Linked DNA regions of Homo sapiens: region 2 is linked to region 1. The links come from fine-mapping of genetic effects on gene expression. Tissue or cell type: minor salivary gland. Region 1 holds a variant in brackets; the other region holds the start of a gene. All regions are shown on one strand. Distances are between the middles of the regions.

Region 1 (2,691 bases):
AATACCATCGTGCACCACTGACCTCTGTCTCTTGGCTTTTGAAATTTCAAAGCTGAATAAGAAGCATAATGCCCACCCCGCCTACCTCAGCTATGGGAACCCCTTTTCTGTTGGGCTCTACTTCATGTGATAGGGGTGAAAGAAGATGAGAAACACAGCTCTGTACCCCCATGGGCATCCAACAGCAACATGGTGACACCTTCATTTCTTTTTGGTGCCAAGTCCTGAGTTTGAAGTCTTATTCTTCAAGAGGAATCCCAAGAAGAAATAAGTCAGCAGCTACAAAATGAATACTGCAATACATTGAGGTAGACACCAGCCTACAGTCCTAAGGCAGGAAGGGGCAAAAAGAGCAACAGGAAAGTACAGCTTGCTACATGAAAAAAGCAATCTCAAAAGAATGGGAAGATGGACCTCAGGCATTTAAGGTTTTACCTCGGAACGCCAGACTATTCTGTATCTTGGAAACACTCTTTCTTTTTCTTTGGACTTCAATCTTTATTTCCAAATCAGGACTGGAAATGGGAATTATGAAGCCAAAAATATCAAACAGCCTCAGATCCTTTGGTTAAAAACATCAGCGGCAACACACGACTGAGCTTACCTCCCCCATTCTTGACATTTCATTATAAGAGGAAAACCACAAGCCGAACTTAGCAAAGGCTGTTATAATTAACTCACAAGCCCTCGTGTGCTTACTAGTGGTTTTTAAGTTTCTGAGGCTTAGATGTAATGTAAGATGTGTTATTTAATATGCATTATGGAGGGAGGAAACAAAGACACATTTTTATTCTCTTTTGCTATACAGCAGCCTGGTTGGTTCCATTCCATCCATTTAATTTACTGTTTCCAGGCACAAGGGAATTGTTTCCATGTGACACTTATCTATATAAATTTGGGATAAACGGAATTAACGTGTCAATTGAGGTTCTTGATGGCAAATAACAGAGACCAAGTCTGGCCCTGTGAGGCAAAAAAGGAATTTATTAAAGTGTATTAGGTGACTCAGAATCCCAGGAGGCTGCAGAGTGAAGCTGGGAGGCTGTGTATCCCGCGACCATTCCGCAAATCAGTTCTAGCGGTGGTCCGGTGGATGGATACCCTCCTGTCTTTGCTCTGGGCAGAGATGCTGCAGCTTGCCCTGAGAGCACCCTGACATTGCACAAGCTGCTGGGTCTCCTGTAAACTGGCTGTAGTGGCCACCATCCTGCCAGTGCGCCCACAAGTCCTAACTGGGCTCCCCTGGTTCTCATTTGGTGCCCCCTTCTCATGTTCCTCCTCTAAAGATCTCTACTCGAATCCCGCTCCCTGCCCATTTTGGTTACCCTTACCCAAAGGAAGGGGGCTCACACTCTAGAAACACACACACACACACACACACACACACACACACACCC[CCT/T]GTACCCCAGTGGCTTTTGCCCAGGTTGGAGTCATTTTATCCGCAGTGGCCCCTGGGGCTTCATGGTCAGTGATGTTGAGAGAGGTGGTCCAGACCCTGTGGTGATCAAGTTCCCCAGGCAGGGTCTCCTTGTTCCCAATCCTGCCGTGGACTTGGAAGGCACTCCTGATTCTTTACTTAACCATTTAGAGCAAGCTCACACATGTCTCCAAAGGACAGATGTCAAGCCTTGGGAGACAGTATATTCTGAACTCATATCAGGAAAGAAGAGTCTTATATTCATTGCAAGGTTCTTTTCTGACATGGTCTGTGAGCCTCATTTTTATGCAGAGTGGTTACCTTGGAATCCCCCAAGACAGTTTCAGGCCCACACTATTTTCTATTGGCTACTCCCATTGGTGGACCTGGCCAGGGCTCCTGGCTGACTGTGTATGGCAAGATCCTTCCCCATCTCCCTCTTCGGGGTGGGGGATAGTACAGGGCCCGGTGCTGATGCTTCCCATCACCATGTGATGTCACTCCTCATGTGCGGGTGGGGCAAGGCCATATACAGAACATTTGAGGTGGTGGAATTACCAGCTTGAGAATTAACCGTTCCTACTTTTCTCAAGTTGTAAGCTCTACGACAAAGAAAAAGAGGTAGCTTTTTTCCCTTCTTATCCCAAATGAGGAGCCAGGTTCCGTGTCCTGGATGTCTGAACTTCTTTTATCTCCAAGGAGCATTAGATATCTTTGTTTTCAACAGTCGGAGTTCCTGTGTGAGACAGTACACAACCCACTGGAACGACAGGGCTCTGTGGGGTGAAGAGGAGGACAAAGGGAGCAGAGCCCCAAGGCTGGTGGGAGGGCAGGAGAGGAGACTCTGGAACAGTGCAGGGCACTCCCACGGGCAGGCACTACCTCAAGGAAGGTGACAACTTGGATAATGGCTGCCTGCCTGGAGGCCAGTGAAGGACAGGGTACTGATCTGTCATGCAGGGCCCTGATAGCCAAGGCAAGTGTCTCCCAGTACCGAACCTAGAATGCAGGGGCTGGCAAACTTGGTATATTAGTCCGTTCTCACATTGCTGATAAAGACATACCCGAGACTGGGTAATTTATAAAGGAAAAAGGTTTAATGGAGTCACAGTTCCACATGGCTGGGGAGGCCTCACAATCATGGCAGAAGGCAAAGAGAAGCAAAGGCACATCTTACATGGCAGCAGGCAAGAGAGCTTGTGCAGGGAAACTCCCATTTATAAAACCATCACATCTCATGAGACTTATTCACTATCACGAGAACAGTATGGGGG
Region 2 (2,691 bases), 430 kb after region 1:
ATGGGATGAGTGCTCATCTATTTGGAAAAGTTCCTACCATTATCTAGACTTCATACCTGGCCTCTATAGGCATTTTGGTGTGAGTATTAAATTTATTTCATTAATCCAATAAATCTTTATTAAGCACCTTTTATTGGCAGACCTTGTTCTAGGCATGGGGGATATAGAAGTGGCAAAAAGGACCAAAGATCCTGTTTAGACAGAACTCATATTTTGATGGGAGAGACACAATTTTTAAAAATAGAAACATTAACATGTAATATGTCCAGCTGTGATTACCACTATGAAGACCATCAAGCAGGCTAAGAGTAATGGAAGATAATGAGATAGGAGTGGGGACAGGTGAGGTGCCATTTTGTATCAGGTATTTCTATAAGGTGATAAGGTGACATTTCAGCAGAGACTGAAGGCAATGAGAGGCTTCCCAAAGCCAGGAAGAGAGATTCTGTCTTCATATCACCTCTTTTAAGGCCTGTGAGGCAAGGGAACAAGCACAAAGGCCTTCTTGGAACATTCTAGAATAAAATACAGAGGCCAAAACACCAAGAGTTCTCATTAGTTTTTAGTTTTGCGTTCCAGTAGAAGCTAAACACAAACTAACACCTTATTAAGTTTTTAGTTTAACTGTTGTAAACGCTTTGGGTAGGTAAAGTTAAAATTCAAGTGTGATATTTATCCATTTAAAGGAGTGAATCAATCCTATTTTATTTTCTATATTTTTGGGAGCTGGCCTTTCTGCTTTAGTCATAGGACGCATAGAGCAAGCTTTTCTAATTTGATTGTTGGATGACGGTGTGGCATCTTCCTTTAGGTTCTTTTCTTGGGTCATGATCACAGCTAGTGCTAAACCACTCCATGCTGCCTGATCATACACCAGGGTTTGGTTATCCACATAAACATGATGCTGTTGTGAGTTCATTTTTCTATTTAGAGAAGCATGTCAGCTAGAAATACTTCCACCTTATTTCCCAGACACATGCGTGCTGAGTGAGTGGCCAAAATAGCCCCTTGAGTAAGTGGCAGCTTTAAAAACCATCCAACTGCTGACTTCAAACTAGAAGGTCAGCAAAGGAAAGTGGAAGTTGGATTCTGAAAGATCGAGGTGCCCACAGGAATTTTATGGTCGTCGGATTTTGAAGACTTGAACTAGACTGGGGGTTCTCCTTGCATTTCTTGCCTGTTGCCTATCTTTGTCCTCTCTCTTCCGGCTTCGAGATGAATGTGCAGCCCTGTTCTAGGTGTGGGTATGGGGTTTATCCTGCCGAGAAGATCAGCTGTATAGATCAGGTCAGTAGACATTTCTTGGCTTTTGTGAATAATAACAAACACAGGAAATTGACCTTCTCACATATGGACATAGGTAAATATGGAAATTTAATTTTCAGTTAAATTGTTTTGAACCACAAGAAAAAGTTATATTTTCTCACCTTTATTTAGTTCTACACATTTCTATTTCTTCTGTGTTGTCTCAAAAAAAAAAAGTTATCCATTTATTTAACCGTGAGTGTTGTTATAGCTGTGTGTGTGGATTTTAATTTTTTTAAAATCAGCATTTTATCCTCGAAGTTCATTTTTTTACCCTAAAATATATAAGAACCTTGAGTCTGGGGGGAAAAGGGTAATTGCTAAATCTTCTCTATATGATTTCTAGATATGGCATAAAGCCTGTTTTCACTGTGAAGTTTGCAAGATGATGCTGTCTGTTAATAACTTTGTGAGTCACCAGAAAAAGCCGTACTGTCACGCGTAAGTGTTTGATGCCCCCACCACTACCTCTTGAGTTTTATTTGTTTTTCAACAAGGAGCCAACTAAACGTTCAAATCATATAACCCAGGGTTAAATCCAAGAAATATCTTCTCCCAAAGTGTTCCCTTGTATCCTGTCATTAAAGAGACCTAAGGTGGGATTTTATGCAATGGACACAAAACTTCAAATTTCTTCCAAGTAAAAGATCAAATATATCCACTATAACCTCATGTCAAATTATTAAATACTGTGCAGAACAATGTAATGGCCATAAATATGCATATAGAGCTTTGAAGTATTTTCTTTTAAATAATTTCAGAATCCTTTTTTACTTTCTTCAGAAAGTTTTCAAGTGATCATTTCCAGTTAAATTTAGGCTTTCAGTTATATATGTCGATTTTATTTGATTTGCTTTTTTTTCTGTAAGATGCATTGCCTGGAAAATCACGAACTTAATTTTTAAGTTTTACATTTATTGATTTTTTAAAAATAACTGTTATTATTTAAAAATAATTTTAAGAATAGTCCCTCAATCATTTGGATAAAGTACATTTCTAATTTTGATTTATACCTATTTGTTGTAGCCATAACCCTAAGAACAACACTTTCACCAGTGTCTATCACACTCCATTAAATCTAAATGTGAGGACATTTCCAGAGGCCATCAGTGGGGTAAGTTATTTAATTTTCAGTGGGATGGAGGGTATGGAGAATGATTGGTTACTGGGTAGAAACATGCAAATAGATAAAAGGAATATATTCTAGCCAGGCACAGTGGCTCACACCTACAATTCCAACACTTTGGGAGGCCAAAGCGGGCAGATGGTTTGAGCTTGGGAGTTAGAGACTAGCCTGGGCAACATAGTGAGACCCTGTCTTTATTTCTTAAAAAGTTAAATAAATAAAAGAAGGAACATGTTGTAATGTCCTATAGCAGACAGAGT

Alleles and levels. Alleles are on the strand shown, and positions count from the first base shown. SD is a standard deviation of normalised expression in the study named.
For the expression in minor salivary gland of the gene that starts at base 1,057 in region 2, CCT is the high allele of the variant in region 1 and T is the other (large effect, 1.2 SD a copy in GTEx).

The links. PIP is the estimated chance that this variant, and not a neighbour inherited with it, causes the effect.
Region 2: NRAP starts here. The variant in region 1 is fine-mapped to the expression of NRAP in minor salivary gland (GTEx, PIP above 0.99).

The regions. Positions count from the first base shown.
Region 1 is chr10:114,094,079-114,096,769 of GRCh38, reverse strand. No RefSeq gene overlaps it. Among named protein-coding and RNA genes, the nearest start is that of ADRB1, 52 kb to the right of the region's middle. The variant CCT/T (reference allele first, on the strand shown) is at 1,398.
Region 2 is chr10:113,662,407-113,665,097 of GRCh38, reverse strand. NRAP (nebulin related anchoring protein) reads left to right here and starts at 1,057. Exons shown (of 42, transcript NM_198060.4): 1 at 1,057-1,287; 2 at 1,652-1,746; 3 at 2,332-2,419. The coding sequence starts at 1,216.